5 linked regions of the Homo sapiens genome follow. The protein of the gene in region 3 purifies or fractionates together with the protein of the main gene of each other region. This does not show direct contact. Each region holds a gene or a part of one and is shown on either strand. Other genes may lie near its edges.

The links.
Region 1: the proteins of CUEDC2 (region 3) and GTF2A1 purify together in Homo sapiens (affinity purification with mass spectrometry, with the first as the bait; one large-scale study listed by BioGRID). This does not show direct contact.
Region 2: the proteins of CUEDC2 (region 3) and CDC27 purify together in Homo sapiens (affinity purification with western blotting, with the first as the bait; 2 studies listed by BioGRID). This does not show direct contact.
Region 4: the proteins of CUEDC2 (region 3) and CREB1 purify together in Homo sapiens (affinity purification with western blotting; one study listed by BioGRID). This does not show direct contact.
Region 5: the proteins of CUEDC2 (region 3) and TBP purify together in Homo sapiens (affinity purification with mass spectrometry; 3 studies listed by BioGRID and IntAct, with this or other methods). This does not show direct contact.

What each region holds. Positions count from the first base shown.
Region 1 is NC_000014.9:81,178,382-81,184,624, forward strand, and holds part of GTF2A1 (transcription initiation factor IIA subunit 1), read right to left. Parts: intron 1,950-6,243; coding exon 1,842-1,949; 3' UTR 1-1,841. UniProt on the Homo sapiens protein: TFIIA is a component of the transcription machinery of RNA polymerase II and plays an important role in transcriptional activation. TFIIA in a complex with TBP mediates transcriptional activity.
Region 2 is NC_000017.11:47,154,796-47,161,038, reverse strand, and holds part of CDC27 (cell division cycle protein 27 homolog), read left to right. Parts: intron 1-1,040; exon of another isoform or gene 1,041-1,885; intron 1,886-2,735; coding exon 2,736-2,833; intron 2,834-3,654; coding exon 3,655-3,809; intron 3,810-3,914; coding exon 3,915-4,126; intron 4,127-6,174; exon of another isoform or gene 6,175-6,243. UniProt on the Homo sapiens protein: Component of the anaphase promoting complex/cyclosome (APC/C), a cell cycle-regulated E3 ubiquitin ligase that controls progression through mitosis and the G1 phase of the cell cycle.
Region 3 is NC_000010.11:102,424,690-102,430,845, forward strand, and holds part of CUEDC2 (CUE domain-containing protein 2), read right to left. Parts: intron 510-6,156; 5' UTR 500-509; coding exon 426-499; intron 104-425; coding exon 1-103.
Region 4 is NC_000002.12:207,534,706-207,540,948, reverse strand, and holds part of CREB1 (cyclic AMP-responsive element-binding protein 1), read right to left. Parts: intron 1-6,243.
Region 5 is NC_000006.12:170,562,628-170,568,870, reverse strand, and holds part of TBP (TATA-box-binding protein), read right to left. Parts: intron 4,327-6,243; coding exon 4,239-4,326; intron 1,954-4,238; coding exon 1,862-1,953; intron 1-1,861. UniProt on the Homo sapiens protein: The TFIID basal transcription factor complex plays a major role in the initiation of RNA polymerase II (Pol II)-dependent transcription.

The sequences.
Region 1 (6,243 bases), on a different chromosome or scaffold from region 3:
TATATATTTTAAAACCTCTGTGTGCTTTGAGAGTCACAGAATAAACAAACTTCCCCTCAAAAAACTAAATTAATATAGTCAAAATAAAAGCTGTATTACCAGTTATGGCATCTAAATAAAATCTAACTACTAGCATGCTAGACACCACCATTAACACCAAAGTTTAGAACATAAGTTAAAGAGATCAAGGTGGTAAGCTGGGTGGGAAGTAGAAAAAAAAAATTTTTGCCTTTTTTTAAAGTTAAAAGATTTGTGTTAAAAAAGAAACACTATATAATAGCTCACAGTTTTCTTCTCTGTAATGTACTTTAAAAAGTGTTCATGTGTTACTTCTGAAAACACAAAGGCAAAAGGAAGACAAAAACTGAAGATTAAAAAAATATATCAATATACAAGTAACCTAAACACATGTAAATTTTGTCAAGATAAACCATGGAAAGTTGAATTCGTTGTAAGAACACAATGGTGAAGACAAGCATTCCTGCAGTTCTCCCAGGCAGTGAATTCACACTGAACACAGCAGTGCCATATTGTTCTTCAGAGCCCCTTACAGAATACAGACCTATGCATTCTTAATATACATATTACATTTCTATTATTTTTAATATACAAGTCAAATTTCTATGCTTTCTTCCCAATGTGCAAACTGGAGCCAACGTCTTTATTTTCAATGGCCTGGAAGGGCCACCAAATGAAAGAGAGGTAACTTAGTGGCCCACCCACCTCTTCCCCCCAAATTTTCCCCTCAAATTACAAAGTTGATTTTAAAAACTTGTTGAATTAGAATAGATTTTTAAAATTCTTTACTAGTAAACACAAGAAACTTTTATAATTACTAAACTGTTTAATAAAAATCCAGGTCCTCACCACCTGCCCTATGCTAATCAATGCACAGACTGTTAACTGAATGTTTAGCTTAAAAACTAAACACATTTATAAGCACACACTTCAGCCCAACAGGAAAAGTCTACATATATTCATGTGTATACAATTTCAGCTAGATGGTATGCTTGCAAAATAAAACTATATTCCTGAGGAGCTAGTTTGGGGTTTCTTTTTAAGGTGTGGCACTAAAAGAAACAAATTAAGTTTTTCTGTAAGGAAATTAAAGTTGTGGTTTCAATTCCACTGAACTCAGACAAGACCCAAGTCTTTAATTACATTTAATAAGTATGAAAACCTAATTAAAATAAATATTCATTCCTGGGTCAAATTTTATCTCCAAACTATGATCACTGATAACTTTAAATCTTAAATAGATGTTTCATAAAGCTGGAAAGGAAGAGGTATATATCACTGAGGGAGAATAGCAAGTAAAAATATTTAAGACCTATTATGAGAGTTTTAAATTGTTTTCTTATACAAGTGAATTAAAATTCAACACAATTCTTACCCTTTTGTAAAAAGCTCACACGCAACTTTTACCAAATATAACCACATACAATAAGCAGTTTCAGTTCAATCTATCAAAAGGGAAGTTTCTTCAGTTCATTCCAACAAGTATCTTCTGATTGAACCCAAGTTGGAGGAAGGAATATAGACAAAGCTTTACATGCTAATTACCGGTGGCAGGTACCTGTATTTAAAATCAACAATTATGGTTTTCCTACACAAAACCCCAACCCTCCCACCCAAAAACCCTAGGTGCTACAGTTCCATGGCTTGCCAGTAAGTAGTGTCTATGTTGTCAAGGTCTATCTTTGTTCCAGTAGCTTTGCTTCTACTGCACTTTTCTGACATGCAGAAACGAAGTTTTGGTTGGCATATGCCCCAAGTTTCAAACTGTCCGCTTTACATTTTTTTTAAGTTTCTTTTATTTATAAAAGAAAAAAAGCAACTCTTCACCATTCTGCATCTCCAATGGCTTTGGAAAATATATAATCTCTTCCATTAAGATTCATAATGCCATCCTTGAGATGAAATTTCCATTTGTTTTTACTTCTGTGTATCTAAACAAAAACAACATTTTAAAAATTGAGAGATACAATCAGAAAACAGAGAAAACAAGTAACAAAAAACCCATACACACACACACGTACACACACACCCCCCCACAAAACAGTATTTACAGTATTGTATTTGCAAATTGGTTTGTTTTTGTAGAAGAAGGGTCTCCTATGTTGTGCAGGCTGGGCTCGAGCTCCTGGCCTCACGTGATCCTTCTATCTCAGCCTCCCAAAGTGTTGGGATTACAAGCGTGAGTCACAGCACCTGGCCTAAAAATTGGTTTCTTAATAAAGTTTAATTTCACCAAAAAGAACAACAACAACAAAAAAACCACACACAAAACTCACTAGGTGGGTCTAAAAACAAATTTATCTGTAATTAGTACTATTTTATAGCTTTTAGTACTTGTGTTCATTAAAGTAGTTAAAAAATATTTCTTTACAAAATGTCTTATCTCTCTACCAGGTTTGCATATATATTTTCAAGGTCTACCTCAAAAAGACTATCCTCCACAAAGCTTTCCCAAATCTTACCAGCTAAAACTATTCTTTTCCACTGTTAAATTCCCAATGGTATTTTCATTGACATTTCTTACATTATTTGTAAGTAATACAATTATGGACTCATTTCTTCTACCAAAATAAAACTCCTTATAGAGTTCTCAAGACCTAACTACCATGGAACCTTATACATAGCAGTATTTTAAAAATACATCTAAAGGATGCTAATCATCCAGTCACTTACACCAGATTTCAAAAACTATGTACATCCACAGTTAAACAAAAAGAGCTGAAGGGCAGGCTCTGGGCACTCCCATCTTTGCCTTCACTTATAGTCCGTAGTTGTTTGTAATTCCATGGATTTGGTGGGGGAGAGGAGTTGTAAAACTTAATGAACTGAAGTGACCTTTCTTCCTTTTCCCAGTAAGTCACACTAATTATTTAATGTTCAAGTTCCACATCTTCTGCAAAGAAGGCCCCCTGGTTCTCCCTATTCTATGATCTAAAGGTACCTAAAAAAAAAAAAAAATCAACTAGTTCAGGCTTTCATTTTCAGAAGAAGAAATGACAGATTGGATAGGGTTCAATGGTTTGACCAAGTGTATACTGCTACTAAGTGACAATCATGATTTTCAAGTCTTGGTCCAGTACGCTTTTACTAAATCAGTCTGTTTCATATAATAATGCAGAAATGCTCAACAGGTATAGATATTTTCTTTTTCTTTTTTTTCTTTGAGACAGAGTCTCACTCTGTTATCCAGGCTGGAGTGCAATGGCACGATCTTGGCTCACTGCAACCTCCCCCTCCCAGGTTCAAGTGATTCTCCTGCCTCAGCCTCCTGAGTAGCTGGGATTACAGGCACTCACCATCACGCCCAGCTAATTTTTGTATTTTTGTAGAGATGGGTTTCACCAGGCTGGCCAGGCTGGTCTTGAACTCTTGACCTCAGGTGATCCCCCACCTCGGCCTCCCAAAGTGCTGGGATTACAGGCGTGAGCCACTGCACCCGGCCAGGTACAGATATTTTCTGAGATCTCATTCCTAAAATTCCATGGCCTAACCTCCCAGTGCAAACATTCTTCATGACATATTCCTGGCAAATGGTTGTGCAGTGTCTGCTTAAATACGATTAGAAACAGTGAGCAAAGAATTTCAAATTAAGTTATTCCTTTTTGGAACAGCTCTCTTGTAAAATCTTTCAGAGTTTACCCTTACGGAAATCTGCTTCTCCAACTTCCATTTATTGATCCTAGCTCTGCTTTTTGAGACTTAAAAAAAAAAAATCACTCAATCAAACAACCTTCATCTTATTTGGAAACTACTCTCATGTTCTTCTTCTGGATTCAAACTTTGCTTACTTATTAAAGCAAAACAAAGCACAATAAAGGTAAAACAGCAGGTAGGGTAAAGACTGTTGGATTAAGAACTAATTATATCTCTGGTCTAAATACACTACATAAATGCTAAATGTAGCATCTTAAGATTGATGACTTGAATGTCTAACGGACATACCAGACTTGGCATGTCCAACCAGCTCCACATGCAGCTTTTCCTCATCTGAACTGATGGTATCACCATCCTTCTTTCAGAATCCTCATCAAAAAATCTCAAGAGTCATTCTTGATTCCTTTTTCTTTTCTACCACAAATCTCAGAGTCAGGAAATGCTGTTAACATTCTTCCTTCAAAACAAATCCAAAATCCAACTACTTCTCACCAACTTTAATACCATCACCATAGGCCGAGTCATCATTATCTCCCATGTGAATTATTATAATATCCCCCTAAATAGTCTCGTTTCAGCAACCTCTGCTTCCTCCTCATATTATGCTCTCTACAAAGAAAGCAAAGTAATCCTTTCAAAATTTAAATCAGTTCATACCATTTGTCTCACTGAAACCTTCCAATAACTTTCTGATTCACTTAAGAGTAAGAGCCATGTCCTTACAAAATCCTTACTATCTGCCTTCCCTTACCTCTCTACCTACTACTGTACTCTCCTCTTCCCTCACTCCAGTCTAGCCACACAGGCCTCCTTGCTGTTCCTCACATACAACAGACTCTGCCACCAGATGACAGGGCTAACTCTTTCCAAGTCTTTGCTAAAATGTCATTTTCTCCAAAGACCTACTATGACTATCCTATTTAAAACTGAAACCAAACCTGTCCTCTTTCCCTGCTCTTTATTTTTCCATACCGACTATCAGCTTCTAACATATAAATATTTTATTATGTTTTAAATAAGTAAATAAATCCTAATTTATTATGTTTTAGCATCTATCTCCCCTGATTGGAGTAAGCTTCCCAATGGCAGGGACTGTTCTGTTTTGATCATTAGTGTATCTCAAGCTCCAAGAATAGTGCCAAGGGACATCATAAACAGTATCTGTTGCACATGAAAAGAGCTGTCTCCCCTTATCTTTGAATTCCTATAAAGTATTATTTATTCTACAAACGTGTATACAAATGTATTTCCAGCATGAACCAAGTGACTGCAACCAGAAAGACCGTGGGCTTAGCTAGACAAAAACAAGAAAGTGATGAGTAGCCAGGAAATAAGAGATTCTATAGACAAGTAAAGAAACTGCCTGCATTCTGTCATAGGACAGGACAATTTGCAAAAAATAAATGTACCAAAGTTTCATGGGCCAACTAATCCACACAGTCAACACTGAAGTCATGTTGGGTAATAAATGGTAAATATTTTTATATTAATAGAAGTACAAAGTCACAACTTAAAAAGCAATCTATTTACCGGCCCTAAGCCCTTCATGAAGGAATATTCTTAAAGCCAGGAGAAAGCCCTCTTAAATTTCCTAATTAAAAATGTGTTAAAGCAAGTTTACCTACATCTGATGCTATTTTCGCTAAATGCTGTATCAGCCCTTATCCACCCACACGTAAGCAAGAACTCTACCATATTATTAGCATTTAACTAAGATTCTGATTTGATTGGCAATACAAGCTTTATTAGTCGTTCTATGATCTCTTCTAAAATTGACTCATTGTTGACATTCTAAAGTTAAGGCTTCAAAACTACATTCCTGAAATTCAAGTTGGCTCAAACAATATCCAACCTCATTTTGCGCAGTCAAAGAAAACTGCTGTTCTTTACTATTGGCTAAAGACATCAAGCCACCACCCTCCTCCAATCTTCAGAGCAATTCATTTGATTCTCAAAATTAGACCTCTGCAAATTTTAAAATTATTTATCATTCAGCACACCATTTAGAGCTATCTCCCACTTACTAATTTAAAACAGTAAAGTAATGTCTCTGGGAGCAAAACAAACCAATTTTAACATTTAAAATATTATGAGTACAGTTTGTGCCAAAGGAGAATACAACCATTGTCTTAAAGTAGGAAGACACTTAAAAGTATATTCTTCAGTCAGGCTAAAACAAAGGTCCTCGCTTGCCTGATAAATCTGACATCTCATCATGAAATTGTGTTCTGGATAATTTGGTTGCAAGGAGATCCTCTGAGACTTCCTAACAATAAAGATTTAATGGTATCTTTTGTTTTAACCTCATAGTCTTGCTCTATGTGTATCTAACAGGAAATTACATTTATTATACTGCACATGGTATATGGTTTTAAGAACAGTCTCTCAGAAGTCATTATGCACAAAAATGAATGCTGTGAAACTCTCAATGACCTTACTGTCTTCATTCTATAACTTCACTGGTAAAACTAGCCTAACTCCACCTTTTTATTAGTAAATAAGATCCATAGTGTTGGCATTCTCCCTATAGATCTGTTTGAAGTAAGCACGGCTACTTATCACATTCATTTC
Region 2 (6,243 bases), on a different chromosome or scaffold from region 3:
ATCTTAGATACAGACTTTGATAAAACTTATTTATGTTTTCCAAAAGTCTGCATCCTACTTCTGCTTCCTACTTTGTCCATTTGTTTATTGGCTTAAATTACACAAGTGTGGGAAGCTAGATATCCTTCAACTGGTAGTACTTTCTTTGTCATATCACTTATTTCTAGTTTTTACTCACTTGAAAATTTGGCAGTGAGGCAAACTAATATCTGGTTCCCCAAGGGTACCTTCTTCATAGTTCTCTGAGGTTATACTGACATTCCGCACATAAACAGATGATGTATACATTTTACCTGATAGTTTCAGTTGAGGATCTCGGTTAGATTTCTTCTGGTCCTTTATATATAAAACCTTAGAATTTTGGAAGAATTGCTGTTCTGAATTTTTTTCCATTTGATATTGAAGCATTTGAACTTCAGACCAGGTAAGTTGTATTTTTTACCTGAATGCTTTAATTGGTCTCACTAGCCACTAACCCCTTCCATCCTCCTATTTAAAAGCTAAGGAGGAGGCGACCAGGTGCTGTGGCTCACGCCTGTAATCCCAACACTTTGGGAGGCTGAAGCGGGTGGATCACTTGAGTCCAGGAGTTCAAAAACAGCCTGGCCAACCTGGTGAAACCCTATCTCTACTAAAATATAAAAATTAGCTGGCATGGTGGTGTGCACCTGTAATCCCAGCTACTCGGGAGGCTGAGGCATGAGAATCACTTGAATCCAGAAGGTGGAGGTTGCAGTGAGCCGAGATCATGCCACTGCACTCCAGCCTGGGCAACAGGGCCAGACTCTCAGGAAAAAAAAAAAAAAAAAAAGCTAGAGAGGCAGCAATGCTGTTCTGATAATCCCCAGATTTTTCCAAGTATATATGTTCCCAGGGATATTGTCCAGATTCCATATGTAAGCGTTTATACACCTGATTTAGAAAGAAACATAAATTTTCCTTTTCATTAAGGAAGCAGATCCTCCACAAACAGATCTTGAGGGGAGAGGGGAGGAAAAAGACCTACCACCTCTAGTTTGTTTGAAAAAAAAAAAAAAGAAGCAGAGGTTTCAGCAGTGGCATCCAGGGCTGGGGTCGCAGCCGTGGATGGGGCCGGGACCGAGGCCACGGAGCTCGTGGAGGCAAGGCCAAGGATAAGGAGTAGATTCCCATCACCAAGCTGGGGCTCCTGGTCAAGGACATGAAGATCAAGTCCCTGGAGGAGATCTATCTCTTCTCCCTGCCCATCAGGGAATCTGAGATCATTGACTTTTTCCTGGGGGCCTCTCTCAAGCACAAGGTTTTGAAGATTATGCCGGTGCAGAAGCAGACCCGTGCCAGCCAGGGCACCAGGTTCGAGGCGTTTGTTGCCATCGAGGACTACAATGGCCACGTCGGTCTGGGTGTTAAATGCTCCAAGGAGGTGGCCACTGCCATCTGCAGGGCCATCAACATCCTGGCCAAACTCTCGATTGTCCCCGTGCGCAGAGGCTACTGGGGGAACAAGATTGGCAAGCCCTACGCCGTCCCTTGCAAGGTGACAGGCCACTGCGGCTCTGTGCTGGTGCGCCTCGTCGCACCCCCAGGAGCACGGGCATCGTCTTGGCACGTGTGCCCAAGAAGCTGCTCATGATGACTGGTATCGATGACTGCTACACCTCAGCCAGGGGCTGCACTGCCACCCTGGGCAACTTCACCAAGGCCACCTTTGATGCCATCTCTAAGACCTACAACTACCTGACCCCGGACCTCTGGAAGGAGACTGTATTCACCAAGTCTCCCTATCGGGAATTCACTGACCACCTCGTCAAGACCCACACTAGAGTCTCCGTACAGAGGACCCGGGCTCCAGCTGTGGCTACAACATAGGGTTTTTACACAAGAAAAATAAAGTGAATTAAGCCTGGAAAAAAAACAACAACAAATAAAAACCTGGTCATTTATGCTATATTTAAAGCATTTAAATCACTTTCAGAATTACCACTGGGAATGTTGTATTAAAAATTAAGGCCAAGCGTGGTGGATCACGCCTGTAATTCCAGCATTTTGGGAGGCTGTGGTGGGCAGATCACTTGAGCTCATGAGTTCGAGACCTGCCTGGGCAATATGGCAAAACCCCATCTCGACGAAAATACAAAAAGGCCAGGTGCGGTGGCTCACACCTGTAATCCCAGCATTTTGGAAGGCCAAGACAGGTAAATCACCAGAGCTCATGAGTTCAAGACCCGCCTGGGCATCAATGGTGAAGCCTGGTCTCTACAAAATATGCAAAAATTAGCCGGATATGGTGGTGCGCACCTATAGTCTCAGCTGTTCAGGAGGCTGAGGTAGGAGGATGGCTTTAGCGTAGGAAGTAGGGGTTGCAGTGAGCCAAGATCATGCCACTGCACTTCAGCCTGTATGATAGAGCCAGACCTTGTCCAAAAAAAAAAAAAAAAATTAAGAATAATACTGAAGGATTTGGATGTTTTTCACATCTCCCTCAATAACTCTAGTATCTGACAGGAAGTTTAAAGTAATAGTAATATTCAAGAAGGCAACGATAGTTTGTTTTGTAAGCATTTCTTTTGATTCATGTTCTGTGCGCTTTCACTTGATTTGGAGATTAGCAGATGGGAGAAATTGGTAACTTAGAGAAGCATCACAAAGAGTGCTCTCTGAACTTCTGTAACTTTTACCTAATTTTTTATACTAAAAGTTTATGATACAGGTTTTGGGGTTTGTAGCTTATTTAATCTACTTGTTTCTCTCCACAGCAAGACAGATCGGCTTGCCAAAGGATCAGAATGTTACCAAAAGAGCCTTAGTTTAAATCCTTTCCTCTGGTCTCCCTTTGAATCATTATGTGAAATAGGTAGGTGGGTGGGGTTGAGAGGTGGGTGGGTTCCCATCTCCTCTTCTTTTTTTCCTGCTACTTAATTTTTGGAGAGCAATACAGATCATCTACCCCCAAGAAAAATATTTTTCAAAGTTAAAATTGAGAATAAAAAATAAGTTAGAATCTTCGGTATGTTTCAAGAATCATATAACTGAAAATTACACAAAGATTAAATCCAGTAGATTCTTCTGTTGAACCAATCTATTTTCAAGTATCTGGTGTCCTCTAGAATGGGTTATATTGTGTGTTTAACACTAGCAAAATTGCTTTCTGAATAAGAAAATTAATAAAATTTCTAATGCAATTAATAAATGCCTGAAACTTACAAGACCTGAACAGTACAGGGAGAGAATTTCTCAGTATATTTGGCCTAGGATACATAAAGGACCATTTTTCAGCATTGTTGCATCTATGTATATATAGAAGGGCTTCAACCTTTACTGTAAAATATGATGGGTTTTAACTCTTCAACCTCATCTCCTACTTTGAGAAAAATGAGATCTAGTTATTTTCAGCTTTAAAACAAACACAGAAATCTGCATTTTTCTGCGATTTGTTATGTTTAAAATTAGTGTTCTTGTAGTTTATTTTCATTTACAGCTTTATCTTACTGGTAAACTTTTATGATATATTGATAGATGGGTTTTTTGGGGGTAAATTTGATTAGCAGAAGTGGACAGGAGATTTTTAAAGTTTGGATAAGGCCTATTTCCTGTTTCCACTGATTTATGCATACTTGAAAAACATGTATTCCTCACTTCCTCAGAGACAAACTTTTTTTTTTTTTGTCTTCACAGGTGAAAAGCCAGATCCTGACCAAACATTTAAATTCACATCTTTACAGAACTTTAGCAACTGTCTGCCCAACTCTTGCACAACACAAGTACCTAATCATAGTTTATCTCACAGACAGCCTGAGACAGTTCTTACGGAAACACCCCAGGACACAATTGTAAGTGTCTTATATTCTAGTGTTCAAAATATTATGAAAACTACAAAGAATGATCTGAACTAAATAATATATTGTGAATGACTTGGTAGAAATTTTCTGTTTCAGGAATTAAACAGATTGAATTTAGAATCTTCCAATTCAAAGTACTCCTTGAATACAGATTCCTCAGTGTCTTATATTGATTCAGCTGTAATTTCACCTGATACTGTCCCACTGGGAACAGGAACTTCCATATTATCTAAACAGGTTCAAAATAAACCAAAAACTGGTCGAAGTTTATTAGGAGGACCAGCAGCTCTTAGTCCATTAACCCCAAGGTAAGTCAAACAAGATACTTTCAAATGTGCTATAATACCAAATGATCTTATGATAACTCATATTGTTAGTAATGCAGATTATTACAACAGCAACTTCTAAATCACTGTGGAAACAGGGGCATTCTGTTTTCAGAAAATGAAGTAAAAACTGGCAAATAGTGATGTTGCCAGGTGCGGTGGCTCATGCCTGTAATCCCAGCACCTTGGGAGGCCAAGGCAGGCAGATCACCTGAGGTCAGGAGTTCAAGAACAGCCTGGCCAACATGGTGAAACCCTGTCTCTACTAAAAATACAAAAATTAGCTGGGCATGGTGGCGGGCGCCTGTAATCCCAGCTACTCAGGAGGCTGAGACAGGAGAATTGCTTGAACCCGGGAGGCGGAGGTTGTAGTGAGCCGAGATGGAGCCACTACACTCCATCCTGGGCGACAGACCAAGACTCCAACTCAAAAAAAATTGATATTGAATATTGGACTGGCCAGGCGCAGTGGCTCACGCCTGTAATCCCAGCACTTTGGGAGACCAAGGTGGGCAGATCACGAGGTCAGGAGATCGAGACCATCCTGGCCAACATGGCGAAACCCCGTCTCTACTAAAAATACAAAAAACTAGCCGGGTGTGGTGGCACGCGCCTGTAGATCCAGCTACTCGGGAGGCTGAGGCAAGAGAATCACTTGAACCCGGGAGACAGAGGTTGCAGTGAGCCGAGATGGTGTCACTGCACTCCAGCCTGGGAGACAGGGCAAGACTCCATCTCAAAAAAAAAATTGGAGGAAAATTTAAAACTCTGAAATATTCCTTAATTAGGTAGTAAACACATTAAAAAATACTGTCTTTATGGCTGTGCATTAATGGATAGCGGTGAGCCTCATGAAATGTTATAATCAGGGCACCACTGGTTACTGTTAAAGTGCCTTTTTCCAAAACATGGAGGAAATTTGACACCTACCTTTTTTTGTTTGAGACAGGATCTCACTCTGTCACCCAGGTTAGAGTGCAGTGGCACAATCATAGCTCACTGCAGCCTCAAATTCTTGGGCTCAAGCGATCCTCCCACCTCAGACTCCTGAGTAGCTGGGACTGCAGGCACATGCCACCACACCTGGCTAATTTTTTAAGTGTTTTTGTAGAGATGGGGTCTTGCTGTGTTGCCCAAGCTGATCTGGAACTCCTGGCCTCTAGTGATCCTCCTGCTGTGGCCTCCCAAAGTGCTAGGATTACCGTGAGCCACTGAACCTAGCTGTCACACCTATTAATATAAAATATTTTATCAAAATTATTAGAAGTATATGTATGTATAAATACAGGAACTCAGCCCAGAGGATACATATCCAAAAGTATCAAAATGAAAAATTATGTGCTAGAATGGGTTGGGCATGGGGGCTCATGCCTGTAATCCCAGCACTTTGGGAGGCTGAGGTGGGCAGATCACTTGAGACCAGGAGCTCAAGACCAGTCTGGCCAACATGGTGAAACCCTATCTCTACTAAAATTACAAAAATTAGCCCGGCATGGTGACACATACGTGTAATCCCAGGTACTTTGGGGGTTGAGGCACAAGAATCATTTGAACCCAGCAGGTGGAGGTTGCAGTGAGCTGAGATCATGCCACTGCACTCCAGCCTGGGCAACAGAGCGAGACTCTGTCTCAAAAAAATATATACATATATGCTAGAAGAAATTCTATGAATCAGGTCCTGAGGCCGGGGAACTACTAAAATAGCATGACCATGAGATTACAACTCTGGAGAGTTATAGTTATCTAATGGTCTCTAGAGACATTTTCTCTGTAGTTGTGTCTAAATCCCATAAATTCCAAGAATTTGAAGTAATCTCATCATTTGGATCTTAGATTTATAAAGCTACTCTTCTTTATTTCTAATAAATCTCCTGAGATCAGTAATTGTTGCTCAGTTTAGTTCCTTGTTTGATAGCTTTTTAAAATTTTAGTTATGGTGGGTGGAATAGTCTACATTCACAGCTTATTTTTAATCTGCCCCTCAGATCCTCACTGTCCCTAAGACTGATTTGCCATTCTCTTCCTTTTAGACCTTCTAATTTAAGTATACTGCTGCTTTATATATGCCTTGATGACTTTTTGACACCTTGATTTCAACC
Region 3 (6,156 bases):
CTCAGTGAAAGCCTCCATATCGAAGTTCTCCTCTGATGGGCCCGAGGGGCCCAGGTCCTCCAGGACCCCAAGCACATAGGAGAAGATGACCTCATCCAAGCCACTGCAGGAAGGGAACAGGACAAGCCCTGGGTAGGACACTGGATGCCTCCAGCACCCCCACCTATCCTGAGACTCCAGCCCTCAGCTTCATGGGGTCTATGAGCTAGACCTTTATCTTTAAGGCCAGAGAGTATAACCCCCTCCCTCAGAGCTATGGTTTCCCATCTGCCCAACAAAGGTGACAGGGACAGGATGAGAGGTAAGGCCTCTCAGCAAATCCTAGTCAGCCCTCCTGCTGTCTTTCCATCAGCCAGTACCCATAGTACTGCCCGGCAGCTCCAGCTCCAGCACTGACATGAGCCTTCCGGGGGACCCGTCTCTACCTGAGGTCGGCCTCCGGGAGGTGTGTCTGGACAAAGGCAAGGAGGGCTGCACTGACGATCCTCTCCAGCTCCATGCTCTCTCTTCTGAAGGGACACAGACAGGATGGCCAGGCCTTCTTCTGCCTGCCCCCACCCACTGGGCCTGGGGGCAGTGGCTCCTCCCTCCTGGCCTGCTATGGAACCATCTGTTGATGCTGCCCTCTCTGTTCCCCCAAGTAGAACCATGCCCCCTCCTCCGCCCATCTCACCTCCTTCAGCCTGAGACAGGACAGGGCACTGTGTCTGGAGACAGCCTCTAGAGGAGGCGCCCCCCCACCTCTCCCCACCCCCCTACCTCTCCCCACCCCCCTACCCCATTCCCCAGCAGCAGTCCCAGACCTTCTGACAAGGTCTTGGGGTCACATGCCTCCTGGCTCAGGAATCCCATCACTGAGGGAGCCCCTTGGCCCCCAAGTCCAATCACAAGGGGCCCCATTGTCCAGCCCCTCAAGGCTCAGCCTCAGGACCAAGCACAGCCCTTCCCCCACCCAGAACAGGCCACCCACCCTCTGCACAAAGGGGCTTTTCTGGCTCTGGGGCCCAGATAGAAGGGGAAGCCTTTCATGGATTCTCTCTTCTCGCCCAGTCCCTGCCCTTCCTGCAGCTTAGGACTATCTGCACAGCACTTTCCATCCTCCTCCCCAAGGCCTGAGGAGCCCACAGATCTGGCCCTCTCCCAGCTCTCCAGCCTCCCCAGTCCCTCCTCCCTAGCTTGCTCCCACCCCACCTTCTGTCCCTCAGACTTGCTGAGCTTCCTCCTGTCTGTGTCCTGCGGGACATCCATGGCTCGTCCAGTCACTCCTCAGGGCTCCGCTCAAATGTTACCTCCTCAGAGAGCCCTTCCCTGACTAACCTATGGCAAGTAAGTCTTCTCCATGCCCCTTAACCCTACATAGCACTTACTACCATTAACATTATTTTGTGCTTATTTGCCTATTGTCTGTCTGCCCCCATAAAATGGAAGCTCCAAAGCAAGGTGGGGATGAGGGGGACACTCTGTCTTATTCATGAGTGTAACCCTAGCACCTAGAAAAATGCCCATACTGGCTAGGTGCTGAATACATACCTGTTGACATGCTCCATTCCCATCTACATGCTTTTGACTCCCAAAAGTCTGTTTGGGAGTCAGGAGCATATGGGTGGTAATGAATGGCTCCAGACCCATAGGTCCAAATGCCAGCTCATCATCCCACTCAGAAGGCTCCGAGGCACCACCAGTTCCACGCACCTCACACTCATCATAGACTACTGATCTGCGCACATCCCCCTCCAAACACACATCTGCTTCATCAGCTGACACCACTCACTCAGCTGCCAAAGCTGAAACCTGGGGATTACCCTTGATTTTGCCCTCTTTCACCCCTACCAGTCAATCACCAAGTCTGTCAATTCTATTTCCTTCTTTCCTTCTTATCTGCATTGTATCCACTTCTCCCTATCCTGAGTCTGGCTTCTGCTCCAAAATCTCCACCAAAATTTCTTCTTTTTCTTTTTTTTAGGCAGGGTCTGGCTCTGTCACCCAGGCTGGAGTGCAGTGGTATGATCTCGGCTCACTGCAACCTCCATCTCCCCAGCTCAAGCCATCCTCCTGCCTTAGCCTCCGGAGTAGCTGGACTACAGGCACACACCACCTACTAGTTTTTTGTTGTTGTTGTTTGTTTGTTTGTTTTAGTAGAGATGCAGTTTTGCCATGTTTTGAGTCCAGGGTTCGAGACCCAGGCTGGTCTCGAACTCCTGGGCTCAAAGCAGTTCGCCCACCTCAGCCTCCCAAAGTGCTGGGATTACAGCCATGAGTCACCGTGCCCGGCCTCAAAATTTCTTAGACTGAGGTCATCAGTTACTTTTTCCAGGTTTTAGTCTAATTAGGTTGAACCATATGAGCTTGCCAATTTTGTCTGGTTTTGATCTACAAAAAAAAAGGGGGGAATTTCTCATGATTTCACCTTCTATTTGCCCTTTCAGCAGCTCCAACTTTGGTTTCTGAGATGCCATTCTTTCCTGGTTTCCTTCTACCTCTCTGGCCATTTCTTCGAAGGCCCTTTCTCTGTCCCCTTCTCTGCTCCCCTCTAAATGTGGGAGTTCCTCACATGCAAGGCTGCCTCTCCTTCTCACTGCAGCGCTCTCTCTCTCTCTGGAAGATCTCATCTGGGCCCACATCTTTATGTACCAATGCCATGTCATCAATTCCCAAATGTCCAGTCCTCTAGTCCAGTCTCCTCTGAGCTACAGGCTTGGACATCTACCTCTCTAACACTGCCACGTGTATGTTTTACAGGCATCTCACAGTTAGCGTGTCCCAAACTAATGTTCTCTCAAGTGCTTTACTCCTCCAAGGCCATTCTCAGTAAATGCATGTCCAGGCACCCGGCTGTTCCTGCCACAAATCTGGGAAATATCCTTGACACCATCCTACCCCTTGCTCTCCCTCATCCAATCAGTCGCCAAGCCCTAATCATTATCTCTTGCCACATCTATTTCTCTCCATCTCTACTCCCACTTTTCTCCATCTCTTGCCTGCAAGAACTTCCTAACCCTTCTCCCCACTCCATCTTCCCCCCAACAACCTATTCTCCACACCACAGCTGTGTGATCTTTACAAAAAAATCACATCTTTTCCTGCTTAAAATCTATCAATGCCTTCCTGCTACCCTTCAGGGAAGTCCAGAATCTTTTCATGGCTTTCCATTGCCGTCCTTACCCTGTCTATATCTCTCTCCAGCTTCACCATGCACCATACCTTCCTGGATCATTTCCCTCCCTCCACCCTGGCTTTGTTTTTTGTTTGTTTGTTTGTTTTGTTTTGTTTTTGAGACAGCCTCACTCTGTTGCCCAGGCTAGAGTGCAGTGGTGCCATCTTGGCTCACTGCAACCTCTGCCTCCTGGGTTCAAGCGATTCTCCTGCCTCAGCCTCCCGAGTAACTGGGATTACAGACATGTGCACCACACCTGGCTAATTTTTGTATTTCTAGTAGAGACAGGGTTTCACCATGTTGGCCAGGCAGGTCTTGAACTCCTGACCTCAGGTGATCCACCTGCCTTGGCCTCCCAAAGTGCTGGGATTACAGGCATGACAAAGCACCCGGCCCCACCCTGGCTTTCTTTCAGTTTGCTAACACTCAAACTCTTTCATGGCAAGGTAGTATACCCTCTGAGCCTTCTGCCTCATCATCTGAGTGGGACAATGAGCTGCCATTTGGACCTATGGGTCTGGAGCCATTCATTACCACCCACATGCTCCTGACTCCCAAACAGACTTTTGGGAGTTAAAAGCATGTAGATGGGAATGGAACATGTCAACAAGTATGTATTGAGCACCTAGCCAGCACGGGCATTTTTCTAGGTGCTAGGGTACACAAACTATTTCCTCTGCCTGGGCACCCTTCTGCCTCCACCCCTTCACTTACTGTCACTCTGATCTTTTGGGTCTCATTTTAAAATTCCCTTCCTTGGCTGGGCACGGTGCCTCATGCCTGTAATTCCAGCACTTTGGGAGGCTGAGGCAAGAGGATCGTTTGAGCTCAGGAGTTTAAGACCAGCCTCGGCAACATATCAAGACCCCATCTCTCTTTTTGTAGAAAAATATTTTTAGGCCAGGCACGGAGGCTCATGCCTGTAATCCCAGCACTTTGGGAGACCCAGGGGGTTGGATCACGAGGTCAGGAGATCAAGACCATCTTGGCTAACACAGTGAAACCCCGTCTCTACTAAAAATACAAAAATTAGCTGGGTGTGGTGGCACGCGCCTGTAGTCCCAGCTACTCAGGAGGCTGAGGCAGGAGAATGACATGAACCTGGGAGGCGGAGGTTGCAGTGAGCCGAGATTGCACCACTGCACTCCAGCCTGGACGACAGAGTGAGACTTTGTCTCAAAAAAAAAAAAAAAAGAAAAGAAAAATATTTTCAAATAAAAATAAAATAATTCCCTTCTTCCTCAAGGGACATCACCCCTGACCTAGAACTCATTTGGGCCCTGCCATATTACACTCTCTATGCAGGCTGCAAGTTTTCTGACTAGCAGCACCTTTCACAGCCATAATTATTATTTGGACAATGTTTAATGTTTCTTCCAGTTGTCTCATGAAGCAGGGACTAAACACCGGGCTGACATTCACCAGTGTATACTCAGCATCTCTCATGAAGTGGGCACTCAATAAACAGTTGAACCCCAATTTACCTATGAAGAAATGAAGTTCAGTGTGTTTAATGACTTGCCCAGAGTCACCTGGCTTGACTGCGGTAGTCAGATTTAAATCCAGGTCACCTAGTTCAGCATCTATTCTAGGGGCTACTCTGGGGAAGGGAGGATATCAAGACTTTCAAGTGGGTTGGGACAGGGCTACCTTCTATGCTTACAGTTGCCTGGTCCCGAGTGGTAACAGAGTTGCTCATAGCACAGGGGTCACTTTGGAAAGCAGGACTGAGAAGCCCCAGCCTACCAGGGGAATTCATACCACCTGCGCCAGAGCCCTCATGGGCCCTGAGGAAGAGCAGAATGGCTCAGCCCAGGCATACTAGATCCCATCATGCAGCTCCCTCAGGGTAGAACCGCCTCCAGGGACCTACCTCGACCCTGGGTTACATCACCCTCGAATCCTGGGCTGTCAGTTGCATGGTAGCCTCTGCCGGGACAAAGGCCCATGGCTGCTGCATGAAAGCCCAGTTTCTTTCTTTTTTTTTTTTTTTGAGACGGAGTTTCGCTCTTGTTGCCCAGGCTGGAGTGCAATGGTGTGAACCTGACAGGGTCAAGCAATTCTCCTGCCTCAGCCTCCTGAGTAGCTGGGATTACAGGCGCCTGCCACAACGCCCAGCTAATTTTTTGTATTTTTGGTAGAGACGGGGTTTCACCATGTTGGCCAGGCTGGTCTCGAACTCCTGACCTCAGGTGATCTGCCCACCTTGGCCTCCCAAAGTGCTGGGATTACAGGCATGAGCCACCTGTGTGGTGGTGACTGAAACTTGGCTGAAAGCCCAGGTTTTCTTTTTTTTTTTTTAATTTTATTTATTTATTTATTTATTTATTTATTTTACTTTTGAGACAGAGTTTCACTCTTGTTGCCCAGGCTAGAGTGCAATGGCGCGATCTTGGCTCACCGCAACCTCCACCTCCTGGGTTCAAGCGATTCTCCTGCCTCAGCCCTCCTGAGTAGCTGGGATTACAAGCATGTGCCACCATGCTCGGCTAATTTTGTATTTTTAGTAGAGACAGGGTTTCTCCATGTTGGTCAGGCTGGTCTCGAACTCCCGACCTCAGGTGATCTGCCCGCCTAGGCCTCCCAAAGTGCTGGGATTATAGGCGTGAGCCACCGTGCCCGGCCTGAGAGCCCAGTTTCTAGGGAAGAAGCTTCTCAGGGATGTGTCTCATGCTTCTGGGTTTTTAGCCAAGGCCTGGGGGCCAGGGAATTTTTAGGAAACTCTTCACTGTCCCCAAATAAAAAGACTTGCTCCCCTAAGCTTTTCTCTAGTTTGTATTCCAAGGGAACATCCTCCCTCCCTCCTCCTGTTTTTGGTCTACCCAAACTTCACCCAGGCTTCTAAGCTCTTTTACCCTTCCCCATCCCCGGTAGCCTTCCTAAGTACATCCTTCCTGCTCAGGGGCTCCTAATACTTCTCCCCGCATAGCCCCTGAGTTGGGGAAGATCTGGTCTGCCAGACTGGTTTCCTAAGTAGCACCTAAGCAGCCACCCTTCTCCAG
Region 4 (6,243 bases), on a different chromosome or scaffold from region 3:
TGTGCCCATCCAGGCTACACTAAATTTATATAAACAAAATTTTCTTTCATCAGTAATACATTAACCGTAGCTTACTGTAACTTCATATGCTTTTTAGTTTTTTTAACTTGTCAACTCTTTTGTAATAACACATAGCTTAAAACACAAATAAATTGTACAGCTGTATAAAAATATTTTTTCTCTAAAGGGTTTTTAAGTGAAAGCAAATTTAGTAATAAAGTAAAGCAATAAAAGAATCTAAGGTTTTTTCCTTTTTTTTTTTTTTTTTTTTTTTTTTTTACTTTTTAAACTTTTTTGTTAAACTTTATTTTTTTGACACAGGGTCTCACTATGTCACCCAGGCTGGAGTGCAGTGGCACAGTATCAGCTCACTGCAATCTCTGCCTCTTGGGTTCTCCTGCCTTGGCCTCGTGAGTAGCAGGGATTACAGGCATGCACCACCAAGCCCAGTTAATTAATTTTTGTATTCTCTGTAGAGACAGGATTTCGCCATTTTGCCCAGGCTGCTTGAAACTCCTGGGCTCAAGCAACCCGCCTGACTCAGCCTCCCCAAGTGCTAGGATTACAGGCGTGAGCCACCATTCCCGGCCACTTTTTAAAATTTTTTGTTAAAAAGACATTCACACGTTAGCCTAGGCCTACACAGGGTCAAGATTGTCAACATCACAGCCTTCCACCTCCACAACGTGTCCCACTGGAATGTCTTCAAGGGGCAATCACATGCATGGAGCTGTCATCTCCTATGGTAACAATGCCTTCTTCTGGAATACCTCCTGAAGGACCTATCTGAAGTTCTTAATAGGTTTGCTTACACTAGCACAGGACCACTGTTGTATATGCAATCTGTCATTCACCAAAACGTTCTTATACAGTGCATGACTGTATATCTCTGTCTACACTAAGGAGAAGAATTGGGAGTCAGGAAATCTACATTTCAGCCCAATTTATCATTGTATTCCTGTTTATATCTTACCTTCTCTTACATGAAACTCAAAGCTCCCTGCCTCATACTCAGCATTCCTCAAAATGTAGATCTATAATCTAATACTTTCTTCACCAATTTATGAGTATGTCAAGTTCATTATATGTCCATGTTTTCATTTTTTTGTCCATTCCACTGCCTAGAATACACTCCATTTTATCTGTACTTACTGAAGTTCTTTAGTATTCAACTTGAATTCTACTTCTCCCACAAAACTTTTCCTCACTAAGCCCCTTCTCTTCTGAACTCTGTAGCTCTTCAAGACAGTAAAAACTCTGTCATGTACTCTGGCACATATAAATCATTCTTACACTATTTCATCATCCCTACTATACCGTAAGATTCTTGAGGGTAGGAGCCATATAGTCAGGCTTTATTGCTTATATCAACTAGAACAATCTTCATTTAATACCTAGGTATTTTTATAAATACCTAACTGAATAAATTTTCTTGCGATTATTTCACCAACCATAATAAAGTCAATGGTCAATAAATCTTCACTGAATAAATGATTGATAAATGGCAATACATAAAGTCAAGGTGTCACCATTGATCACAGCAAACAATAGAGCTACTACTGATACTTATTATAAGAAAATGACTCCCCTTTAAGAGTACAAATAGGGCTGGGGGCGGTGGTTCATGCCTGTAATCGGAGGCTGAGGCAGGCAGATCACATAAGGTCAGGAGTTCGAGACCAGCTTGGCCAACATGGTGAAATCCTGTCTCTACTAAAAATACAAAAAAAAAAAAAAAAAATTAGCCAGGTATGGTGGCACATGCTTGTAATCCCAGCTACTTGGGAGGCTGGGGCAGCAGAATCGCTGGAACCCAGGAGGCGGAGGTTGCAGTGAGCCGAGATCACACCACTGCATTCCAGGCTGGGAGACAGAGCGAGATTCCTCTCAAAAAAAAAAAAAAAGAGTACAAATAATTCAGAATAATCTGTAATTTTCACTTCAGTGGTGAAAAACAAGGTATTTCTGTGTCCCCTACTGCCAACTACTTACTTATACCAACAGGGATAACAGCCCTCAAAAATAATGGTTATTTAACCTTGGGTAAATTACAAACATTTTTAGTTACATCTGTACTGTCATACAGTTACAACCAAAAACTCACAAGTAGATAACCAGATCCTTAGAAATTCACTTAAAATTGATGAAAGAAACGTCTTCATTTCAGAGAAGATGCACTAACCTTTGGGAAAAGACACATTCTATCATCATTGGTATAAGTCAACTTTCAGATCCACTCTACTCCTAAACTATTTTATTAATAACTTCCCTTTTAACCCTTTCTTATCTAATCAAATGTCACTTCTCTTCTTTCAGAAAAAACTCACCATCAATTCCTTAGACCTCATCCTCTCAAAACCTCGCCCCTTTTAAGATTATTTTTTAGAGATCCTAGAATCATCCAAGAGGAAGAAAACTGAAAGGGTGTTTTTCATCTTTGTTCACACAGCTAGTCTCACGGTAAACTCCTTTATCACCTTATTTCAACTCTAAGAAAAGGCAACTTAGCATCTGTAAGTTCATCAAGGAGTACTACTGTTTATTTTCTTTTTTAGGAGTTGAGATTATGTACCTAGCTTCAAGAATTTTTTAATACACAGTGATTTTTCATCACTGGAGATGTATAATGCACGTATTAAATTATAGGTAATTATTCATCACTGGAGAAACTGCCTTCTCATCTGTTGGAATAAACGCCAGAATACGTTTTTCTAAGCTAACATCTTTCTGGTAGCCTAGAAGACAAATGAGGAAACATCTGGGCAAAATATAATACAGGGTAAGCATCCCTAATAAAACATCCAAAATCTCAAACTTTTTGAGCACTGACATGATGCCATGAAAAATTCCCACACCTGACCTCATGTAACAGTTCACAGTCAAAACTGTTTCATGCACAAAATTATTAAAAATTTTGTATAAAATTACCTTCAGGCTATGTGTATAATGTGTATATGAAACAAATTTCATGTTTAGACTTGGGTCCCATCCCCAAGATAGCTCATTATGTATGTATATGCAAATATTCTAAAATCTGAAAAAACCCAAAACTGGAAATACTTCTGGTCCCAAGAATTTCAGATAAAAGATTCTCAACCTGTAAAACCTATCTTCATAGGGCCTTGTCTGGCAGAGCTTAAAAAGAGAGAGAGAAAAGGCAAAACAAAAAACAACAACAAAAAAACCCAGTAGATAAGACAAGAGTGTGTATATATTAAGGGGAGTCAGACATTCTGAATGTGAATAAAAACTAACGTCTATTCTTATTTAAGTTTTGTCTCAAAAACCTACATTTACAGATGTGATAAAACCACACCTTCTACTTACAACTTCAACAAGCTGACCAGCATCTGGCTCTTCTATAATGACTAAACTAGCATATATTTAATTGGCAGAGAAAAAACAACCACGTTCACATTATCAGTTTGCTGCTTTAATGATCTTTGCCTCCACCCCAAGAGGCAATCCACTGATGATTCCATGACACTGTGGGAAATCATTTAACTCTGTTAGTCTACAGATATGTTCCAGATAAAAAACGTTCTGCCTTTACAGATTTCAATGATCTACCCCACCCCCATCCCCAAATATGTAAAGACAAGCACTTTGTAGGCCAGGCGCAGTGGCTCACGCCTGTAATCCCACCACTTTGGGAGGCAGAGGTGGGTGGATCACGAGGTCAAGGAGATCGAGACCATCCTGGCCAACATGGTGAAACCCTGTCTCTTTAGCTGGGCATGGTGGCAGGCGCCTGTAATCCCAGCTACTTGGGAGGCTGAGGCAGGGGAATCGCTTTAACCCAGGAGGCGGAGGTTGCAGTGAGCTGAGATCGCACCACTGCACTCCAGCCTGGCAACAGAGAAAGACTCCGTCTCAACAACAACAACAACAACAAAGCACTTTGTAAACATTTTAATCATTTAGCAGGTACAAATAGCACACAGTAATATTTTATTTATGAGATGGCATCTTGCTCTGTCACCCAGAGTGGAGTTCAGTGGGGTGATACTGGCTCACTGCAACCTCCACTTCCAGGGCTCAAGCAATTCTCCTGCCTCAGCCTCCCAAGCAGCTGGGACTACAGGCGTATACAACTATACCCAGATAATTCTTCTATTTTTAGTAGAGATGGGGTTTCACCATCTTGGCCAGGCTGGTCTCAAACTCCTGGCCTCAAGTGATCCGCCCGCCTCGACCTCCCAAAGTGCCGGGATTACAGACGTGAGCCACCACGCCTGGCCAAATAGCACATAGTAATATTTTAAATCAAATATTAGTAAAACCTCAAAACAATATTCTTACATTAAAAACTTTGTATATATGATCAACGCATAAACACCAACTTGGGAATACAAAAAACGAAATATACCATGACAGCTTTTGTTTTTTTCTTAAGACAGAGTTTCGCTCTTGTCGCCCAGCCTGGCGTGCAATGGTGCAATCTCAGCTCACTGCAACCTCTGCCTTCCAGGTCCAAGTGATTATCCTGCCTCAGCCTCCTGAGTAGCTGGGATTGCAGGCGCCTGCCCCCATGCCCAGCTAATTTTTGTATTTTTAGTAGAGACGGGGTTTCACCATGTTGGCCAGGCTGGTCTCGAACTCCTGACCTCAGGTGATCCACCTACCTCAGCCTCCCAAAGTGCTGGGATCACACAGGCGTCAGCCACCGCGACTGGCCCATGACAGCTTTACTTAATGATGTTTTCTGGAAAGAGATTTGTGCCCTTGCTGCTATATTATTAATCACTTTCTGAGTTTAATCAACTCAAAAAAGTCATAGTGTGTACATTTTAAAGATAAATACAAACAGCATGTATATTTAAAATGTACTACAGCATTCGGGCATGGTGGCTCACGCTTGTAATCCCAACTCTTTGGGAGGCTGAGGCAGGTGGATGGCTTGAGCTCATGAGTTTGAGACCAGCCTGGGCAACATGGCGAAACTCTGTCTCTACAAAAAATTAGCCGGGCCTGGTGGTGCGCGCCTGTTGTCCCACTCACTCAGGAAGCTGAAATGGGAGGATGGCTTGAGCCAGGAAACAGAGGTTGCAGTGAGCCAAGTGTGTGCCACTGCACTCCAGCCTGGGTGATAGAGCCAAACCTTGCCTCAAAAAAATAAATAAATAAAAATAAATAAATAAATAAATAAATAAAAAAGTATTGTAGCTCAATGCTGTTTCGAAAAGCTAGAGGAAAAAAAAAAGGTAGTGAAACGCATTTTGTGCTTTGGCTGAAATACGTATTACTTGGTCCAACTGGTTGACCAAAGGTTTCCCCACGGGGGTAAAAAAATCATCTATGCAGTAAAGTTTATCATCTCAGCAATCATATAGGTGAATCTCACTATTTTTAAATTTAGGTACAAAATATAAAACTCACATAATTACATTAAGAAATACTAGAAAATCGTCAAGGTAAGTTAACAAGTATGTAAAAAATAAATGAATGCAGGGAGAAATCTAGTATAGTAATCAGCCTTACTGGGTAATAATATCCCATGAGCTGTCTGTTAAAAAAAACCCAAAAAAACACCGGACTATATGAAATGTTCTTTCTCATTAAGAAAGAAAGCTATAAAAACCTTTTGGGCCAAAATAATAATTGAAAGAAGTAGTCTGTTCAGAACTGTAAGAACCTCAACAAAAGAGTTAAATTCACCTTGTGAGTTAACTCTTAACCTGGCTTGCTTGCCTCCTCATGTACATTTTGATCATTTTACTAAAACTTTTAAAAACTGGAGTTAAACAGGAAATGAGGGACTTTAAATAACAATTTCCTGTCACAAACTATTTATTTTTCATTCAAATAGAAAGTTTTTCATTTAAAGAAATAAAGGCAAGATGGCAGTTTCCCTTAGTTTAAAAGGTAATATAAGACCTAAGAATAAAAGCAGCTCACTAACTGGTTAATACAGTCTACTTACATAATAAAATGCTTCCAATTGTATGTTAAAAAATGAAGAAGCTCTTTATGTGCTGATACAAAATTGCTAAGCCATATTAAGTGGTGGGGGTAAAGCATGATATAGGAGAGCGTATACCTAGTATGCTACCATTTGTACAAAAAGGGGGAGACTGTACATACATATTTGCTCGTGTTTGCATAAAACACCTCTTAAAGGACAAATAAAAAATTGCTAACACTTAGGTAATAGGGCAAGAGAATGTAGGGCATTTTGCTGTTATTATGTTTTGAATTATAGATCATGTGAATGAATTACTTATTCAAAAAACCAAATTAGAA
Region 5 (6,243 bases), on a different chromosome or scaffold from region 3:
ACTGCACTCCAGCCTAGGTGACTCCACCAAAAAAAAAAAAAAAAAAAAAAAAAAAGAAAAGGAAAGAAAGAAAGAAGAGAAAAAAAGAAAAAATAAAAGAGAAAAAGGCAGGCAGGCAGGTCGGGCACGGTGGCTCACACCTGTAATCCCAACACTTTGGGAGGCTGAGGCAGGCGGATCATGAGGTCAGGAGATTGAGACCATCCTGGCTAACACAGTGAAACCCCATCTCTACTAAAAATACAAAAATTAGCCAGGCATGGTGGTGGGCACCTGTAGTCTCTGCTACTCGGGAGGCTGAGGCAAGAGAATGGCGTGAACCCAGGAGGCGGAGCTTGCAGTGAGCCGAGATCATGCCACTGCACTCCAGCCTGGGCGCAGAGCGAGACTCCATCTCAAAAACAACAACAACAACAAAAAAGAATGTGAAAATATTACCATAAAGAGACTATCAGGTGCAGGGGATCAGGAAGAACAAAAATCAAGCATATATATATATGCTACGCTTTTAAATTTCAGGTAAATGTATTGGTGGTTTCTTGTCTTGATGAAATAGTCATCCAACTACATATACAATATTCAGTTTTCAGATGCTCTGGGACAAAAAGGCTAAATGCTGCATGAAAAGCTTGCCTTGATAAACCAAAAGTTTCTGATGTTCCATGCAGGGGAAAACAAGCAAACAAAAACGCTCTTAATTAAAGAGGTTACTACTGCATGTTGTGGCCAAGGGGAAGTGAAAGGCAAGAACACATCCTTGTCCTGCATTCTGAAAAACCTCGGAGATCAGGAGCCAGAATGTCCACACCAATGGCATTCCCATCACTGAAAGACAATTTCAAACTTCAGAATAAGCAAAAATATCCACAGCCCCCTTCTATGTGTTGATACCTCCAAGTACATTTAATACTCTTTCATTTAAAAAGTTTTAGTTTATTTGTTCAGTTCATTTATGAAGCTAATGTCACTAATTTTCCCCCTAGTTTTTGACTTCTACCAAGTATATAAGCTCTGTTTAGAACAGTCAGGGCCGCAGAGTACTAACCTTCAGACAGGATCACTTCAGATGGAGAATATAGGCAATGACATTTTATAACAAGGGTGCATTCCTTAAGATCTGCACAACTCAAACACTATTAATGAAAGCTAGTTCCAGTGAGAAGGCAGGTTTCTGCAGCCAACACATGTGATGCTGTCACGCTGCCAGGCCCAATAAGGTCTGCAAAGCCCTTACACCATTAGCTTAGAAGTGTTTTAATTCTTGATCAATTTTTTCTTCCATTTCAAGATGTATTTGTGTTATTTACAACATTTTTCACATAAAGGGAATTTTATTAATAGTTCTGATGTTGTATTACATCTTACCTAATTTTTTTCTTTTTTCTGGAGAAAGTGTCTTGTTCTGTCTCCCATGCTGGAGTACAGTAGCATGATCTCAGCTCACTGCAACCTCCACCTCCCGGATTTAAGCGATTCTCGTGCTTCAGCCTCCCAAGTAGCTGGGACTACAGACATCCACTACCACGCCTGGCTAATTTTTGTATTTTTAGTAGAGATGGAGTTTCACCATGTTGGTCAGGCTGGTCTCGAACTCCTGGCCTCAAGTGATTTGCCCGCCTTGGTGAGACACCACGCCTGCCCATATCTAATTTTTAAGAAAATGAAATCACTGCTATCTAACATTAATAGAATCAAATAATAAATAAATAAATAAAAATAATTAATAGAATCATATTAAAATGGTTTTTATAAGAAAGCAATAATAACATGTTAAAGTGCTAACCTAATAACCTAAAAACAATGAGATATCACCTTTTCATTCATAACCCATAGACCAGAAGAATGAATTTCTTACGGCTACCTCTTGGCTCCTGTGCACACCATTTTCCCAGAACTGAAAATCAGTGCCGTGGTTCGTGGCTCTCTTATCCTCATGATTACCGCAGCAAACCGCTACAATGGTCAGAGAGAATCATTAGTGAGGTCATGCCAAACTGCTCAATGTTGTTAGGCGAACCACCCATTGACAAAAAAATCACAACTGGTAGGAAGGACATAGTACATCTAGTTATCAAAATATTTGTTCTGTATTTCTGTATATCTGTAAAGGATTTGCATACACCACATGTAACAAATATTCCTTTGCATAAGGAGCAGAAAATAATCAATTGTGACTAAGTTATACCAAATCTGTATGTTCTTTCACATGAGCATTCCATCAAGAGAAATGTTTGCAAAATTTGGTTATGTTCTCAATAAATACAAGTGCTTCTGTTTCTACTTTATATTTGCTGCTTATCATGACTATAGCTTCTCTGATACATTTTGTTTTATTAATATGAATTTTGAGGCAAATAAACCAATAAACCTTTTCTACCTTAATGGAATTAATAAATCAGATTACAAGCCTATCAATACGTAATGAAGTAAAATCATGCTTTCAATTGGTCTTTAGAAACAATATTAATGTATTAAACACATAAATGCAAATTAGGAAAAAAACACAGTTTTAACTTTTATTTTCTGCTTTTTATGCTTGAAACATGTTAATTCTTTCAGAAAATTTTCTTGCTAAGGTGGTAACTCAAGGGGAAAATATTTCAACTGTGGGTTGAATTAATGGCCTCAGTTATTAGGTACATGATAAAAAGCAAATAATTACTTTGAAACAACTTAAATATTTTAATACATTTAATTATACAATAAAAACCTACATGTTTCTAATTAAGACGACTCTTTGACAAACTAGATTGCTTTAACAATTTTATTTTTTTATTTTATTAATTTTTTTTTTTAGAGACAAGAGTCTCACTTTGTTGCCCAGACTGGAGTGCAGTGGTGCAATCATGGCTCACTGCAGCCTCGAATTCCTGAGCTCAAGAGATCCTTCTGTCTTGGCCTCCCAAGTAGCTGGGATTATAGGTGTGTGCCACCAACCCCAGATAATTTTTTAAATTTTCTGATGAAACAAGGCCTTGCTATGTTGCCCAGGCTCGTCTTGAACTGTTGGCCTCAAGTGATCCTCCCACCTTGGCCTCCCAAAGTGCTGGAATTACAGGTCTGAGTCACCATGCCTGGCTTTTAACAATTTTAGTTTAAAACCTGCTCTATGTCTTCCCTGTGATTTTATCAACATCTAAAAAAGCTAGCAGTATATAGTAGTTTATATACGTCCCAGGAAAAGCCTAGCTATTTTGAATTTCCAGAATTTCCTCTACTATTTTTATTGGTTAAATATCACTTAAGAACGTAAAGTAATAAAATTATGTATTCAACTAAATGTGATTATAATAGATGAAAGATTAATTCTTAGAATGCTACATGTCATACAGACTCATTATGAGTGGTTAAAAGGTGATTTTCAGACCCTTAGCTGTCTTTCAGATCTCAGGCATTATGTTTCAGGGATTTTAAAATGCACCCTAAGTCCATTACTTAACATTTCTCTCAACCCAGCTAATGTTTATCCAAATTACTTTGCCTACTATAGCTGGCTAACATCATCCCTATACATATACAAAATTCTTCACATGATCCCAATACAATACATATATAACTTAGCTTATTTTATAGACTGCTGTACTCCCAGGGATTCTTATATCACAGACACTCAATAAAAGATACAAAACAATGCACATTTTACTTTAGATCTTCATTTTATTGGTGTCAAGGAATAAGCATAACACAAACTCTTTGATATACAGATTTTTTTTTTGAGGCGGAGTCTCGCTCTGTTGCCAGGCTGGAATGCAATGGCGCAATCTCCGCTCACTGCAACCTCTGCCTCCCAGGATCAAGTGATTCTCCTGCCTCAGCCTCCCAAGTAGCCGGGATTACAGGCGCATGCCACCACTCCCGGCAAATTTTTGTATTTTTAGTAGAGACGGGGTTTCACTATGTTGGCCAGGATGGTCTTGAACTCCTGACCTCAGATGATCCGCCCACCTCGGCCTCCCAAAGTGCTGGGATTACACGTGTGAGCCACCAAGCCCGGCCAATTTTTTTTTTTTTTTTAAGAGACAGGGTCTTGCCATGTTGCCTGGGCTGGTGGTGAACTCCTAGGTTCAAGAAATTCTCCTTCCTCAGCCTCCCAAAGTGCTGGGATTACAGGCATTAGCCACTGTGCCTGGCCTGATCTACAGACATTTGTTTTATAGCGTGAAATACATTAAAATATAGAGACACGGCAGAGGAGACAAAAAAGAAAAAAAAAAGAAATACATTAAAATAGATCTAACCTTGGGATTATATTCGGCGTTTCGGGCACGAAGTGCAATGGTCTTTAGGTCAAGTTTACAACCAAGATTCACTGTGGATACAATATTTCTGTAAGAGATTTAAAAAGAAAACACGACTATTTAAATTACTTAAGTTTCATTGGATGAGGCGTTAGAAATTATGCAGACATCTGATTATTTCAACCAGGCTTTACTTTTTTTTAATTGCTCACATTTATTGTTTAACAAGTATCATGCACATGTTGAGCATTTTATATAGATTATTCCATTTAATACATATAACGCACTGAGGTAGAAGTTACCAGTATTCCCACATTTGGATAAATAAGCTGAGGCTTAAAGGTAGAGTGCAACTTGCTCAGGACGCAATGGCTCCCAAGTGGAGGAGCCAGGATTTGAGTCTGTCTGTCTCCAGAGCCTGCCCTTAGCCTTCTCACAGACAAACTCAATTCTCATCTGTGAGCTCTGAAAAGCTACCACCACCACCCTATTCCTAAGTAACTATTTATAATGAAAACAAGCAGGCATGAACTGCCCAGTTCTCTCAAAGTAAGTATCTTTTGAAAAACAAGAGCTAAGTGTCTTTAGCAAAAAAAAAAGGCAAAACCCTGCTTTCTCTTCTAATTAACTCTCAGTAAATAAGGATAAATGGAGCCATCTGGGTCCACTGACCCTTTTCATTTCTCAGTGTTCTTAAATCACTTAACGAATAACTTATACAAGGATAAAGATATACTAAAAAGCAACTCTATTAGAAATTTTAATAAAAATTTAAACAACAAACCCACATTTTCATTATACATTTTTCTGCTTATGAAAGTATATATAGTTGAAATGGGCAATGCCCTTTGAATGCAATTAACTGCTCAACAACTGTCTCGCATGGACCTGGAAATCACCATCCCAAGAATATCGAGTCCAGATTTCAAATACATAGGTTCAAATACAATAGGTTTCAGCTCATTGTTGCTTCTGGTTCTTTTTCTTGTACAGTCTATGATACACAACTGTAAAGCCAATTAGGTTGATCCACACAATGAATGTTTTCATTTCCATATCATCTATTTCCTTCCAATCACCCTTGTATACACACCTGCCTTTAGCATTTGTCCACTTATGAACTATACCAAGTAGATTTTAGTATATCTATCACAACTTTAGTCACATAATTGTTAAATGTATTCTTATATATTTTCATTAATTAAATATTTACCTTAATCCCTCTTAAGCCTACAAGATGGAGAGGGCACTGAACTACCACCCGGGAGGGTTCTTAGTAGATAGTGGAAATTCAGGAATGTGGATGACTGGATGCTCTGGGGAGTATCAGAACAGCAAAGGCACTCGCAAGAAACAAACACCTGACTGTACTGTTTATAATTTATTATTTAAATCAGAAATGCAAACTTAAATATTCCTGGGAGTCAGACAAGCATGCTGGACACATGGGAGTGGTATAGACAAGGGTGAGCTAAAAAGGGCTCTCTCTAAAATCACTAAAATTACTTTGTTTTTAAAATTGTGTGTGGGGTCAAACAAAATTGTGGAGGCAAGATTTAGGTCTTTGGGTGAAAGTCAGCATCCACGATTACACACCACTTAGTTCCAAAAATGATGAGAGATAGCTTATAAACAACAACCATATATGTAACAAGGTGAATAAATGCAAATAGGAAATACTAGATCTAAAGGGAGTATGAAGGAGGAAGGTATCTGTACAAGAAAACTGAGGAGATGCAGAGACTGCAAGTAACCTTTTAATTTGGTCATAAGCTTTCTAAAATGAAAAGCTATACACTTCTTATTGACTGGAATTATTTGGAAATATTTGCTGGTTTTTCAGGAAGATGAAATTATTTCCTACCCCTACTACACTGTTACATATAGAACCCACTTCATTTAGGTAGAAAAATCCATTTATGACAAAAACAGTCGTCTTCATTTTGTGGGAAGGACACAGACCTTCAAAGATTTATATGCAGCACCCATAGTAAAAACAAAAAAC